2 separate regions of the Homo sapiens genome follow, and region 1 is linked to region 2. Evidence: fine-mapped expression QTL. Tissue or cell type: whole blood. Region 2 holds a variant in brackets; the other region holds the start of a gene. All regions are shown on one strand. Distances are between the middles of the regions.

The links. PIP is the estimated chance that this variant, and not a neighbour inherited with it, causes the effect.
Region 1: PTK2B starts here. The variant in region 2 is fine-mapped to the expression of PTK2B in whole blood (INTERVAL, PIP 0.96).

Annotation. Positions count from the first base shown.
Region 1 is chr8:27,320,708-27,328,847 of GRCh38, forward strand. PTK2B (protein tyrosine kinase 2 beta) reads left to right here and starts at 4,845. Exons shown (of 31, transcript NM_173176.3): 1 at 4,845-4,974. RefSeq lists enhancers at 4,890-5,039, 5,090-5,139, 5,745-6,574, 5,920-5,989 and a silencer at 6,732-6,928.
Region 2 is chr8:27,443,726-27,451,725 of GRCh38, forward strand. It overlaps PTK2B (protein tyrosine kinase 2 beta), which reads left to right. Exons shown (of 31, transcript NM_173176.3): 23 at 481-546; 24 at 2,069-2,194; 25 at 7,024-7,170; 26 at 7,318-7,353; 27 at 7,760-7,784. Among named protein-coding and RNA genes, the nearest start is that of MIR6842, 14 kb to the left of the region's middle. The variant C/T (reference allele first, on the strand shown) is at 4,861.

The DNA.
Region 1 (8,140 bases), 120 kb before region 2:
ACCCTTTGAGAACCTCTGCAACTTCAGCTCTGAACCATGTTCTTTTGGGTTTTTAGGAAGGCTTCTTTATGTAGGCATGACTGATTACAGTATTGGCCATGGGTGATCAACTCAACCTTCAGCCCCTTTCCTTCCCCAAGTTTTAGGGATAGCGCTGAAAGTTCAGCCTTCTCATCATACCTCAGTTTTTCTGATGACCAGCCCTCATCCTGAAGCTATCTAAGGGATCTAAGATACCTAAGCCACCAGGCATCTCATTGGCATACAAAAGGCTTTTTTTTTTTTTTTTTTTTTTTTTTTTTGAGACAGGGTGTTGCTCTGTTGCCCAAGCTAAATTCATCCACTGGTGCAATCATAGCTCATTGCATCCTCAGTCTCCTGGGCTCAAGCAATCCTCTTGCATCAGCCTCCCAAGCAGCTAAAACTACAGGTGCATACCACCATGCCCAGCTAATTTTTGTATTTTTTTGTACAGATGAAGTCTTGCCACGTTGGCCAGGCTGGCCTCGAACTCTTGGCCTCAAGCAATCCTCCCACCTCAGCCTCTCAAAGTGTTTGGATTATAGGCATGAGCCACCATGCCTGGCCTCAAAAAAACATTCTTAACACTCCAGAAATTCCAAGGGTTTTAGAAGTTGTGTGCACGGTCAGAGACCAAATATATATTTCTTATTATGTCATAGTATCACCGATGCAGTTCAGGCTATGGTAACAGAAAGGCCAAAATAAAGTAACCCAAGCAACTTAAATTTCTTTCTCATGTAAAAGTTAAACTAGGTTCAGACTATGTCCAGGGTAAGCATGGTGGCTGGACGGCATTAGGTACCCGGATTCTTAACATCATAGACTGGATGGCTGCTCCAGGTTTCATTGTCAGGTGGAGGTGGAAAAGATAAAGTGGAAAATATTGGAGGATGTGCTCATTCCCTTGAGGGGCATGATTCTGGAGTTGCGTGCATAACTTCTACTCTTCAACCATTGCGGAGAACTTAATCACATGGTCGCACCTGGTCACACATGCAAGGGAGACTGGGAAATGTAGCCTTCATTTTGGGCAGGCTGTGACCATCTGAAAGTCAGGGATTCCAATATTAAGGAAAGAAAAGAGAAAGTTCTTTTTTAGGTTGAGGGCATGATTTTGAGTTCTATTCAAGCCATACTCAACTTATTTTGGCCTCAACTGTGGCCCACTTCGTAAACATAGTGATGTCTGGTTAAATTAGAGGTAGACATCCCTTGGTGATGAAGTACTTTTTTCAGTACTTGTACCCATAAGTTTTTCTTTGTCCCTTTTTTTTTTTAAATGGACTATCACTCTGTCACCCAGGCTGGAGTGCAGTGGCATGATTATAGCTCACTGTAACCTCTGCCTCCCAGGTTCAAGCGATTCTCCTGCCTCAGCCCCACCAAGGAGCTGGGACTACAGGCATACACCACTATGCCCAGCTAGTTTTTGTATTTATCCATTTTTTTTGTTAGAATACTTATAACCATACTGTTCTTTTAAAATAAAATTTATTCTACATAATAGTAAATTTACATGATGTAATTTAAATTCCATCATTTACAATGGAGAGATGCCAGTTACATAATGTCGCAGCCCTGCCAATGATGGGTTTTGCTCTTTACCACCTGGGAGCCTGTGAATAATTTATTTACCTTATCCAAGCTTCCTTTTCCTTTCTGCAAACCAGGAATAGGACTAGCAACTTCATAGACGGTTGTGAAGACAAGCTAGACGGCAGATGAAAGTTCTTGGCACAGAGTGAACACTTGATAAACTATATGGCAGGTATGTATGTACTATCTCCCCATAAAGCTTACTTTAATTGCTATCATTTCTAAAAATTATAGCTATAGAATTTTTCATAGCATTTGTACACCTATCACTTAATTTGGGCTTCACAATACCCTGGGAAACAGGTAGAACAGATAATACTTATTTTTCTACTTTTCTAGATTAGGAAATAAAAGCTCAGAAAGATGGATTCGCATGTCCAAAGTCACAACCTCTTCCCTCTTGACTGGATCCTTCCTGTGAGCATTGAAACCTGCTCTACTGGCTATCATCCTAAATGACAAATCAGTCCTCTTTCAACCCACGACCCCCTCCAATATCCCCTGGTCTCAATTGCCCTTGGCAGTCAAGCTTTCCAGGACTCATCAGCGCGTGCCGCCTCTGTGTCTTCACTTTCAGTTTACTTATCAGCCCACCCCACTTGACCTTTGGCTCTTCATTCATTTGCTCCTGGTAAGAGCTTCACTTGAAGTCCTCTGCTGTCTCTGACTCTTGCCTTAGACAAGTTTATCCATTCTTGTGGTTTCAAATGCCATCCCAAAAGTTAATCACCAGCTCAACCACCTTTGTGATCTCCAGTTAGTGAAAAGATAAGAAAAGAGAACCTGAACCAGGATGGGTCAATAGGACAGGAAAGAAAACGAGGAATAGGAAAAAAGTTTGTGGGACTCCCAGGACTTAGAGATTGGAGATTGCATGGCTGCAGGGTAAGGAGGGAGAGGGAGAGTCAAAGGTGACTTCTCTTTTGTTGACATTCACAGGGAGGGCTGGAACGGGGCTTGTTTGAAGAGCAATATGAGCCAGGGTTATAGACCTGAGTTTGGGGTAAGAGTGGAACATCCAAATGGAAGAGTCCAGCAGCTGAAAGGACATTTGTTCAAAGGCCTTTTTCATTACAGTTTTCTCCTTCTTCTGATCCAGGTATGCATCCCCCCAACACCCCCACAATTAGGGCCTCCCACATGGCACTTGGTCAGCTTGAGATACAGAAGTAGAAGGGAAATATTTTTCTTCTCTAACTGGGGTAGATCATTATTGCAACTTATGCCATATGGAGAGCATCGCCATGGATAGTGTCTTTTAGGGATTTCCATGGAATTTGAGGGCTCCTGAGGCATTTCTGATGGGTTTTTTTAAAAGGCAGTAACAGGCAGAAATGCATGACCTTGTCACCTGAGTTGCTTGTACATGACACTGGACAGAACCTAGGGAGACCTGATGGCGGAGTTGGCCACCCCAGAGAGTTTCTCAATGTCTTTTTCATTTAAAAAGCTATGGGTTTATGATTCTGTGAGGTAGATTTGGGAGATTCTTTTTTTAAAGTGCTGAAGAATTCAACAACCTCTGAAAACTCACCTTTCCCAGAATTGGTCCCAGCAAGATAAGATTGTAGTTCATTTATGTGGCCACACAGGGGCAGCACACACAAACTCTCCTTTTCTTAAACAGGTCTTGATTGTCTTTGCTTTTAGTTCCCACTGCCACCTCCTAGTACAGACTCTCAACAACTCACCCAGGTATCTAACTTTTGTGCCACTCAGCCTTCATCACTTCATTTCCAAGCGCAAGAATACGGAGGGGACACCCACTGTCAGATGCCCTCTGACCATGTCCTTGCCATGTAGTCAATTACCTGCCTCCTCATCCCCACACCTTCCCTGCTAACTTCAGTGTACCTCTGTCTGACTTGCCTCTCCATCCCTGGCCAAGTTCTCCCACCTGACCACCTTCTGACCTGCTGACCGCTGTGTAGTCACCAAGATTACCTCCAAAATGCTGAGTGCTGGGAACGTGACAAATCTGTGAATAGCACAAATGGGAAGGGGTGGGGGGGCTCCAGCTGTCAAGGCTGGCAGTGCCCATCAATGGGTTGTGAGCCCCATGCTGGGCAGGTGGGCCCTAGCTGCAGAGAGTCTGATCTTCATCGGACCCAGAGTGACATCCAGCCAATAGCTATGGGTAGTCCACTAATTATACTTTGAGAAACATTGACTTCCTAGCTTTGTTAACTTATCTAAGTCTCCAGTTTCTTTTCAGAAATGGGAAGGAGTCAGTGCAATCTTGGAAACTGAGTGCTTCCTCAGCACAACTCCAGGGGGCGCCATTCTCAGAAAGTACATTGTGAATAGCATCCTCTAGAATTGTGCAACAGGGCAGCTCTGGGAATCAGATTCCAATCCTGCACAGGACACAGAATAAAGAAGCTTGGGACAGGGGCTCTGGAGAGGACATTGTAGGATGAGGATGATGCTGCGTACACTCCACTTTTTTCACTTTATGCCAAGTCCAGGTCACTTCCTCCTCCTACTCAGGAGCAAGTCTGGAGTTTTCCTAGGGATAGGGAAGAAGTGTTGCTAAGTGCCCTTGAGTGCCTGCTCACATATCACCGGCCTGAGGAAAGAGGGGACCAGCCTCTGGGCGGGGCCCCTGGAAGGGGCTGTCCAGCATCTCTAACTATTCTTGTGCTGTCCTCAGACCCTACTTAGTCACAGCTCAGGGACCTGGTCTTCTGTGTTCAGGGACCTGGACCGGTTCTGCCAAAATCCCTAGTGGTATTTATGATTTTTCATGCCTGCAAAGGGACTGGGGCCACTTTAGGACATGGAGAGATTAGGACACAAGTGCTCAGTACCATGTAGATATAACATCTCCCACTGCGGGGGGTCTTGGGAGAACCAGCCTGAGAAGTTGGTTTCCTCCGCCCGCCCTGCGCCCCCACCCACCTCACACACACCTTTTGGCCTCCAAAAGGCTGCAGGTGGAGTGGACAGAGGATGGAGGGGTGTTAGGAATTGGGGAGTTAACTGCTCACAAGGGGCACATAACATCCGAGGATCCCATTTGCGGCCGGGGGAATGGCAGAGATCGCCCCCCAGGTCTGCCCGGCGCTCAGGGAATTGGTGGCAGCGTCTATTTCAGAGTTTATGGTAAGAGGCTGGAGCCGGCACACACAGACAACACACCCCACCCTTTAAGGAAGTGGGGAGGAGAGCAGCAGGGGTGTGGTTAACAACTCAGAGGAGGAGGGAGAATCTAACCTGTCAGCCCTTTTACTCAGCCACAGCCTCCGGAGCCGTTGCACACCTACCTGCCCGGCCGACTTACCTGTACTTGCCGCCGTCCCGGCTCACCTGGCGGTGCCCGAGGAGTAGTCGCTGGAGTCCGCGCCTCCCTGGGTGAGTCCCTCCCGCGAGCCAGGGCTGAGCGCTGCGCCCGGCAGAAGTTGGAGGCTTGACCGGGTGGCAGGGGTTGGGGACAATTCCGGGATCCTGGGCACCTGAGCTGGGAGTTCCCGGAGAAACGGCCAGACCCAGGAAATCGGAGCCGTGGGTGCTGTGCACATGCCCGGAGCTCGCCAGCCTTCCGCGGGGAAGAGGGGTTCTATTTTTGGAGTAAATTTGACACTATAGGGTGTTTCTCCCTCTTTGTCCTCTCAACATATTCAGACAGGGGAGGCTGGGGGAGGCTAGGGGTGACGGTGTGAGGGCACAGCCAGGCTGCTGCCTCTAAAGCTCAGGTTAGGGAGCCACGGGGTTTCAGCTCCTGCCCCCGCTCCCCGCTCCCTCCCGGGCCCTTCCGCAGCCCCAGGGGTTATAGTCTCACCCCCAGCCCACCCTGACTCTCCTGCAGCCACTCCTTGCACCTGAGAGGTCATCTTCTGAATCAAGCCCTGGCTGGAGGAAAGCAAGGGTGTTCTGGGGCACAGGGGAGCTCGTGTGTATGTGTGTGTGTGTGTGTGTGTGTGTGTGTGTGTGTAGTTAACACTGGCCATTCTGGTATCTTGAGAAGCCGCCTCCTGAGTGCCACTCAAGGGTTAAGTTCAGAGCTGCCTCTGCCTGCTGTCAGGCTGCGCGTGGGCACCGCTTTGGGTGGGTGAGCGTGGAGCGGCATATGGGTGATGTTCTGCAAGCCCTGCCACCTGCCCTAAGCCTCGACCACATGACACTGGCATCTCCCTATACCCCAAACTGGGAGCAAAATCCAAGTCCGCTCATTTAAGGAGCCAGCAGAAGGACAAGAGCAGAAAGTTGTGCCTAGAGGTGGCTTTAGCCAGGAGGAACTCGGAAGCTGCGCTGTGGCTGGGTCTGAGCCCACTGGGGCAGTGCACGTGGTGTGATGTGGTGGTGGGTGCTGGGAGGCCCCTCTACGTGGGATGCTCTCTGTTCACCCCAAGTGCTGTTGCTGAAGGCCCTGTCTTTCCCAACCACTCTGGGGGAGGGGGAGGAGGACACTGATGAAAAAGTGACTAAAGACAGAAGGGAGGAAGGAAGTAGTCACACTGGAGAGCCCCAGCATTGGTGGGACAGTCTGCAGTCATCCATTCAGGAGGCACTCACTGGCTTCCCACCTGCGGCCAGGTGCAAGGTGTGGGGACAAGGTGAGTGTGGCATGGCCTCTGCTCACCAGGGCAGTGTGGGATACCGGGTGGTTGAGGGAGGGCTGCCAGGGGAAGGTGCAGGGTACTATCCAACCCTGCACTAGAGGGCTGTGGGGGGAGCCAGTCAGCAATGGCCAGGAGGGCGTCCTGGCAGAAGTGACTCCAAATTGAGAGCTGAAGGATGACTAGAAATTAGCACAAGAGAAGAGGGGAAAGAACAGCAAGTGCAGAGACTGGAGGCTAAAAGCAGCAGGAGGCTGGAAGCAGCGGGCGGCATCCAGGAAAATGAAAGTAGCTGGGCTTGTTGGGAACCTAGAGCGTGCAGGGGCGAGGGGAAGCTGCAGGGGTGAGTGGAGACTGCTCTAGAAGGCTTTGGAAGGCCTGCCAGGCTGCCATGGCAACTTCTGTTGGAGCAACACTTGGGACCTGGAGCCAGGCAGGAGACTTCCCAGCAGGAAGAGATTGCCAGATTTAGCCAATAAAAGCACGGGACACTCAGATTTGAATTTCAGATAAGCACTCAATGGTTTTTTTTTTCACTACAAATATGTCTCATGAACTACATGGAACATACTTATACTCAAACATTATTCACTGTTTCTCTGAAATTCACATTTAACTGGGTGTCCTGTATTTATCTGGCAACCCTACTCTAGGAGAAGCTGAGGTTGGCGCAATGCTGTGAAGTAAAGGCTGGAAACTGCCCAGGCACTCTGAGAACAGTCTCAGGTCTATCTTGTAACCATTCCTCCTGGATTTTATTATGAGCTCATTTAAAAAACAAAAAATCAATTCCTTGGTCAGTTTATTCATCTATACAGGTGAAGGAGTATGGTACCTCAGAAAAAACGACATTAAATCCAGACAGATCTGGGTTCAAATCCATGTAGACCGGTGAGCTTCTCTGACCCTCAGAATCCTCTTTTCTGAAATGAGGGCAGGAGTATCTGTTTGTGCAGGTGGTTGGGAGGATCCCTGATAATGTATGTAAATTGCCTAGTGAGTACTAAAGGAAACATGGTACATATTGAATTTTGCAACACCTTCACAGGGTTGAGCAAAGCAACAGCCACAGAGTGCTTGGGTTCATTTACTTCCACAAGTGAGCACTTGGAGGTCTCAGGTGAAATACATAGTAGGGTTCATGCTTCCAGTGAGAACTCGTGGGGTTAGCCCTTGGGTTGGGGACAGAGTCTGCATTATGTTTTTAGCTTTGCTACTCCCTTCCCATATGACCTGCTTCAAGGGGTGGAGATATAACACTCTTCTTGAGGGATGGTGGGTGGGCAGAGAGTGACTCAAAGTAGAATTAACTGAAGGGAAATGTGAATGAATTAAAGTAGAGAATCCAGATAAAATATTCAGCGCAGACAAATGCGCCATGAAATTTGGCTGTCATGATTCCCAGTTTTAGGATGAGTTCCTTATTAGAAAAGTAGCGCTAAGAGATAGAGGAAGTGAAGGTGCCTTATGAACTGGATTTTGACTTTAATGGGAGCATTTGTAACAACAAATTAGGGTCCTCCTAAAAGGGAACCTAGAGGAAGTTAAGAATTCGTTAAGAGAAAGAGGAAATGGAAAGTGTGTTTCCCTTGTGGGAACGGCTAGGTTAAAAATGGTCCTTCTTTCCAGTGGCTAAATCTCCCCATCCCCCTGTGATAAACATTTTGTCCCCAGGCCCTTGGATTGTTTGCCCAGGTGGTGTTGAGAGAGACCCTATGGCGTGAGATGGATAGAGGTGTTCCACTGATGAAACGTTCAAATGAGCCTGCACTTGGACATGTGTCTTGAATATTTGCAAGATCAAGGTTATGATAAGTCCTGCATAAAAAGACACGTGTCATTCCCTGAGGATGGCTGTAGAGCCCATGCACATTCTCAGGGAAACAGCATTCCACATTGAGTGAACCTTGATGTGAGGGCAGTTTGGGGACCAAGCAGGTCGTTCAGAAGGCATAGCCCTT
Region 2 (8,000 bases):
GGACAAATATTCAGTCCATAACAATGTCTGATCCCATCTAAGGCCTTTTCTCACTTGTCCCTCTTGCCTGGCATGTCCCACCCCTCCCCGCGGGCCTGGCTCAGCGTTCATCTCCTCCATGCAGCTTCTGTGAATGCCCAAGCCCCTGGTGAGCTCCTACCTCTGCATGCCTGTGGCTCTGGAGCTCTGACTTGGTGGGTGCTCCCACGTATAGGGAAGCAACACATGCACCAATCATTAACCCTCCAATTAGCCATAGCCCCGGGAGGGCAGTGAGGTGGCTTCTTTGTACCTTCCACCACTCAGTAGATAATCAGTGCTCAATAAATGGATGCAAAATGAGTTTCATGACAGCTTTGTCCCTCAACTTTCCTTCCTTTGGAACAAGCCTGAGGTGTCTTTGACCTGATGTTCCCCTTGGTGAGTTGTGTTCACTCAAGGAGAGGGACAGAGACTGACCCATCTGTGTTCTCTCTCCAGCCCAGCCGACCTAAGTACAGACCCCCTCCGCAAACCAACCTCCTGGCTCCAAAGCTGCAGTTCCAGGTAAAGATAGAACCAGAGGACGGGAACTTCAGGTCTACCTCTCATCCAGGTCCTGAAACTCCATTCTTGTGCCTTAGAGGAGCAGCAGTCACCCACTTGGGTGATGGAGATGGCCTAGGTTGACTCTTCTTTGGCACCCAGAACAGAATGCAGACTCAGATCACAAGAATTAAAATGCAGTTCTCCCAGGCTGTGCTCAGCTAAGACCTGCCTTAAGCCCCATCCCTCTGTCTACATCATCTGCTGCTTTGTGTGCCTGCCTGCTGCTCTCTCCCCACATCTAAGGCCTCCCTGGCCTCCTTACCAGAAGGAATCCCAGGGAATATTTCCCAACAAATGGAGTAGCTCCATGGGACTCCCCAAAGAGGCCCCATCCAGAACCTGGGTGGCCATTGAAGAGACAGCAGGGTTTTACCTGAGCTTTCTCCCAGCTCCATTATCCCCAACCATGACTCTTTCCCAGGCTGTGCGTCCCTGACCCTGAATGTCTCTGTTCTGTGTCTCTCTTGCCTCTAGGAGAGAGGGAGTCCAGTCTCCTCTTATTTCTTCTCTTGCATCCCCCAGCTCAGAGCCACTGCTCAAAAATTGATCCCCTCAACCACCAGAAATAATGTCCATTTAGTTGGTGCCCTTTATAGAAAGGTGGTGTCCCATGGTCCTATATTTGTTCTCAAGGAAATGCCTGAGTGCCAAAACAAGACCATCTAAGGACTAATAGATAAATCCTCTTCACGTGAAGAGAAAGCCTGATTCAGAAGATGGAAAAATCGTTCTGAAAAAAAAGAGATATACCCATGTGCAATATTTAAAACAGGGAGTTAGGTAGGGTGGAACACACCTGTAGTCCCAGCTACTAAGGAGGGTGAGATGGGAGGATTCATTGAGCTCAGGAGTTTGAGACCAGCCTGGGCAATATAGTGAGACCCCATCTCTAAAAACAAATAGTAATACAATAAAATTGTGATATACTTATTTTTTAATTAAAAAAAATTCAAGGCAGGCATGGTGGCATGCATCCGTAGTCCCAGCTATGTGGGAGGCTGAGGCAAGAGGATTACTTGAGGCCAAGAGTTTAAGGCTGCAGTGAGCTGTGATCATACCACTGCATCCCAGCCTGGGCAACAGAGCAAGAGCCTATCTGAATTTTTAAAAAACAATTCATACATATCTGTATAAATTGGTGTGTTAACCACATCAGTCAGTCTGTAATGCAACTGAAACAACTATTTTTTGAAGAGTCCTGAAGGAAGAGCCCTGGTCTCAGTGGGTCCGTAACCAGCATGGACCCCACTGTGTGCAGAGCATCTTGGGGGAATGTTGGATGAATGAGAGGCTGCACTGCTCCACCATCTCTCTCGGAGCAATGGAAGGCCCACGTTTTGTTCTTTATTAACTCCTGGAGAGCAAGCCCCATTCCCTGTGGTGCTCATGCATAGTTTCTTTGTGCTCGTGTTTGTAGCAGCTAATTGTCTACCTTCTCGCTTTGTCCCGTGCCTTGTGCTTCTTTGCTTTTCCTGAATAGGTTCCTGAGGGTCTGTGTGCCAGCTCTCCTACGCTCACCAGCCCTATGGAGTATCCATCTCCCGTTAACTCACTGCACACCCCACCTCTCCACCGGCACAATGTCTTCAAACGCCACAGCATGCGGGTAAGAGGGCTCTGCATGCTGGTCCCTGCCCGGACTGAGGAGGCTGCTGGAGGGAGGTGGCCGGGGACACTGGAAACCCCACGTCCTCAGCTCAGGAGGGCCCTTCCTGTTCCCATGCACCAGTCAGGCCACTGAGGTGGCACTCTGTGACTTCCTTCCCTTTGCAAACACATCAGAGGCTGGCAGCCACACCAGGCCCTGCTCTGGAGGACACCAGCTGGACCTAACCTGCCCTTGGCCATGCTGGTGCTATGGCTAGAGATGTACAAATCTCCCCCTCTCCTGAGCCCCAGGGGTAGGGGGATCTGTGGCAGCTTGGAGGCTCCTAGGCAGGGCACAGCACAGCTTAGTGGTGCTGGAGAGTATCCTTCCTAAATGATGGCTTTGGGTGTGAAATCTCTCCTCAGTCAAAGGAAAGGCTTTCTTGTGGCTGCTCCCCTTTCTGCTTTTGTTCAGGCTGCTGCTGGGTGAGAAGGAGTTTAGGGCTAGTGGGAATACAGCCTCATTAACTGGCTAGAGCAGGGACCTAAGCCACTTCCCTTGTCAGCTCTTTGTCACGGGGGGTTGTTAACTGCTGGTGAAGCCCGGAGTGCTTCATGGCTGGCTTCTGATTGTCAGGTCTTGTGTGAAAAAGACACTTTTGCTTATAACCAGATGCCCACTGGTCACCAACCACCTTCTTCCATACAAATGGCCCCTAGTGGTCAGTTGCCACGAACACTTGATCTATTTTACTAAACCAACTAAAACACTTATTTTAGCTCTAACTCTGCATGCATGCACAATATTTCAGGCTCACTAAACATGACTAAAATATTTTTTGAAAAAAATTAGATGTTTATCATAATATATTTGGAAGATGTAGGCAAGTATGCTGATATTACTTTCATGCCATTATGCTTAATTTAGTAGAATTTTGAAATGAGCATGATAACTTAGAATTCCAGACACTAAGATTTTTTGTGAAATCAATTTTCCTCTGACCTACCTCGTTTTTCTCTTTTATATTAATTTAACCAATTTCTGTCTTTGCGTGTGCTTAACAATAATAAACTACATTTTTAGGCATGTGCTATAATTTAGGCTGTGTTCGGTTTCTCCACCCTCCTGCCTTTGACTCTCTATTCATAAATGATTGTTTTAGTAAGTTTTGCTTTAAATTGTGTTATTTTAGAAAGAAGCTATTTTGCACATTTGAGGGGTAGCATTGCCTTCGTCCAATTTCCTGCTTCTCCACAAGGACCTTGTTCAGTTCCATAAAGAGATTGTGCAGTAGGAAAAAAGACCTTTTGTATCAGGGCTTTAGAAGTAATTGACATAAGGAAAATCTGCCTAAAAGAACATAATGAGCATGTCTTTAAATAAACAAACCCAAAAAAGTTAAAAATATAAGCTCCATTTTATGACACAGATCAGAAACACTGAGAAAGTCTCTTCCAGGTAGAATGCTGAGAAGGTATAATAGGCTCCTCACAAAGCATTTGGAAGCATTTAACAAAAATACAGAGGTGGTGTTCCCAGAAAAACAGTTTTTCTACTGAGTGGCTCTATAGCCTGACTCATCAGGGAGTCTGTGGGATGCCATACCAGCATTGGGATGGCAGCAGTCTCTCTCCTGAAGACCTCACAATTGAGCTTTAAAAATAATACAATTCAAGGCCAGGCGTGGTGGCTCACGCCTGTAATCCCAGCATTTTGGGAGGCCAAGGTGGGTGGATCACTTGATGTCAGGAGTCTGAGACCAGCCTGGCCATCATGGCAAAACCCCATCTGTACTAAAAATACAAAAAATTAGTCAGGCATGGTAGTGTGCACCTGTAATCCCAGCTACTCAGGAGGCTGAGGCAGGAGATCACTTGAACCTGGGAGGCAGAGGTTGCAGTGAGCTGAGATCACGCCACTGCACTCCAACCTGGGCAACAGAGCAAAACCCTGTCTCAAAAATAAAAATAAATAAAATAAAAATAATACAATTCAATAAACAGTAGGGCTTGCTGTGATTGCTGGACGCTGTCCTCGGTGCTGAAGGGGGGAGGCGCTGCTTTCAAAGCGCTTACAGTCGACCAGAAGGATCAGACCAGGTGCACACTTACCTGTAATGCAAGCCAGAAGGTCGTGGGTACCACAAAGTGGGAGTTCAGAGAGGAGGACAACCCTTTCCAGCTTCTATTTAAAAGTTGGGCCTTGAAAGATGGGAAAGATGTGGACAGGAGGAAACTGAGATTCAGGGAATGGAAGAGGCAGGGGCTTCAGTAGGAGGCAAGACTGAGTGGTGGGAAACCACAGGACAAGTGCAAGAACTGTTGGACTACAGCAGGAAGGGTACTTGTGGATGTGGAAATAAAGCCAACAGATGGGTCATAGCCAGATTATGGAAGGTGTCACAACTTACGAGAGTCATTTTAAAACACCATGAGTACCCAATTCCTTTTAAGAATAGAATGTAATGAGCAATGTAAGTATCCATTACCTAATAAGAATATTGGAGGCGCATTTCAGCAAAACCAACCTCAAAGAGATTCCATTTTTTTGAGTGTTCATTTTTCTCCTTGAGTTTTATTATGAAATTGGAAGGCATCAGGATGTCTCCTAATCTGTGTTTGTTAGAATATGTGGTACGATCAGGCCTGAGGCATGCTAGGCATTTTAGTGGTGGAATCTTCTGT[C/T]AACACTTATAAACTTACAAATACTTACAAATACTTGTAGAATTTTCTTGATTCTAGTAGCTCATCCAACTGGTACTTACCATACTCTTCCTTAACCCATACATTTTTCTCACATCCAGAAATCCCTAACTCTATATTTAGAACTTTTGACACTTAGTTCCTGTTTGTCACTATTTGTCAACAGCCTGGGGCAGCCATGCCATTGTGTCTGCAGGTGTTGACATTTAACTGGGGATTTTTATGGCCTTAAAATGTCCTCATTTTTGAGTATCAGCCTCTGATCAACAAAACCTATTTTATTTTTATCAATTCCATGATTATAAAATACTCTTATATGCTGGAATTTGTTTTCCTAAAATAAGGTCTAGCTCAGTGGTTCTCAGCTAAGTTATTTTCCCTCTGAGAGGACATTTGACAATGTCTGGCAGCATTTTTGTTACAACTGGGGTGGTGCTATAGGCATATATTGTGGGGAGGCCAGAGATGCTGCTAAGCATCGTACAATGCACAGGAAATTGCCCTGGAAATAAGGACTTGTCTGGCTCCAAATGTCAGTAGTGCTGAGGTTGAGGAGCCTTGGTCTGACTAGTATTTACTTAACCCCACGAGAATAAGAACATCGTATAGTTTAACATCACTGTCCTCCCAGCACCCAGCCCTGCCACATAGTAGTTGCTTAATAAATAATTGTTGAATAGATTAATGAATAAATATTTCAGCAAGAAACCTAACTCATGGGGAAACGTGTGATTAGAAATTGAGGTTAGTAATTGAAGCTCAGTGTGCACTAAGTAAAACATCCCAATATAACCACTTTTAGACCATATTGTAATATTCAAGTGTGTTTTGTAGGGCTTAGTGAGGAAACTCTTTTAAGAGGCTTGGTAGGAATTATTGCTTGCTAAAAGTAGATAGAGATAATTGTTAGCATCTTCTGCAAGTGACCTGTATGCAAATGGCCACTTCAAAGGCAAGGAACTGAGGGACCTGCCAGCTTAGATGTCACAGAAGAATCCTGCCCTAGCAAAGGCAACTCCTGGGCTTTGTGCAATCAAGAGGATGCCAATAATATTCCTCCTCCATCTGTCCAGGAGGCCAGGGTCCCCATGTGCAGCACAACAAGAGCAAAATAGTTTAGAGACACTGAGCAGATATTTATACAAATGAACCGTGGGGGAAGACTGAATGAAAATAGGAAGACATGCAATACTTTCTGTTTAGGAACTAGCAGCTAAAATTATGAATAGGTCCAAAGCCCCAGAGGTAAGTTAAAGCAAGAGTTAGATTACTAGATCTAGGGAGAGGAAGCATTTATCTTCTCTCTATCAAACTATATTTCTTTGAATTTTGTTTTTCATTTTATCTATTAGTTCATGAATTTCTTCTAATCATTGGTTAAATAACTCAAGCTATGATTGCATTTATCTTATCTCTATAGAGCTGTATTTCATGAAATTTTGTTCCTTATTTTATCTCTTAGCTCATGCATTTCTCCTAACATTTAGTTAAATAACCCAAGCTATTATCTTAATAAAGAATGTGTCTTAATAGGAAGGCATGGTTGGTGGGTGCATGCTGTTGCTTGTTCTCTCAGGCTCTGCTCATTCATGGACACACGTGGGACTGCACACCGTGAGGCTAGAGGCAGCACCCCTGTCTCTCGAAGCTTCCAGACCTGCCACCTTGGTCCTTAGGTGGAGATAGCATCAGAAGGGTGTGATGCTCTCCAACTAAGCAAAGCCAGCCCCTTGGAAACCCTTTGGATGCTTTTAGTAGATTTTAAAATAGATTTTAATAGACTTTAATAGCTTTTCTTTTTAAAATATATTAAATGACAACAACCATCACAAACACTGAGATAATAGTAGGGCAGTCACTTGGTAAAATATCATGAGCAGATCGTGTAATCATTTGAATACAGCGCACGTTGAGCAGTGGGTTCTTGGGTTTGGTATCACATTGCAACGCAGATACATGCTCGGGGCTGATACTGGATAGCTGTCTGCACATATAGCTCTGGGTTTAAGAACAAACTTATGAGAAAAAAGCAGCTGGCCAGGCCAAGGCTTGCAGCTGCCATGAGGTTCTTCAGAGGACTGTCCCTCCCTGAGTCTGAGAGCAGGGCTCATTGCATCCTCTCCCTTCTCTCTGCCGTCCTCCCAGGAGGAGGACTTCATCCAACCCAGCAGCCGAGAAGAGGCCCAGCAGCTGTGGGAGGCTGAAAAGGTCAAAATGCGGCAAATCCTGGACAAACAGCAGAAGCAGATGGTGGAGGACTACCAGTGGCTCAGGCAGGAGGAGAAGTCCCTGGTGAGCACCCCAGGAAGGATGTCGGTGCCCTGCACCCATCTGTGTCCTCTTCCACCTCCCCAGGTGGCTGGGGCAAGGGTCCCCTGCATTCTTGGTGCTTTCAGCTCCAGAATTCTTAGTCCTTCGCTCTTGTTTCTTCCTCTGCAGGACCCCATGGTTTATATGAATGATAAGTCCCCATTGGTGAGTTGCCAGGAGAGGCCGCCTCCTCCATGCCAAGGCCTGGGAAGGCCTCGCCCACCATAGGACCCCCCGCCCAACTTGCTCCTACCCCCAGGCCTGCCCAGCTCCTCCTCAATGGCTTTCCATGTTGGGAGGGTGTCTTTTCCTTTTCTGCCAATCCCTACATGGCCCTTTTCCTGAACTCTCCTGTGATCGTGCCCTTAGTGCTGTCTGTGGCCCTCCCCAGGGCCCCTCGGCCTCCCAGAAAGGTCACATTGGGTCACGAGCTGCTCCCAGAAGCACCCCCGACCCCATGGCTGTAATCTCTAAACACACAGTGGAGGGACTGGGGAATGGGTAACCAGGGAGGGGGTTGTCTCCACAGCCGCATGAGTGACGTTCCTGTTCTCTTTCCTCCTTCCTCCAGACGCCAGAGAAGGAGGTCGGCTACCGTGAGTGTTCCCGCCCTTCTTCGGGGGGTTTCCTCTTGGCACCTTGTGCAGAGCCACCATCCTTGCCCACCGCCCAGGGCAGGGAGCAGCGGAGTCTGTCTGCATTCCCTGCAGCATCGGCCATGATTTAATTCAGAGCATGTGGGGCAGGCCAGCTTCCCCTCCGCTCCCTCCACCCCATTCCTCTCCCTGCCTAGCACCCTGCCCTTCTCTCTC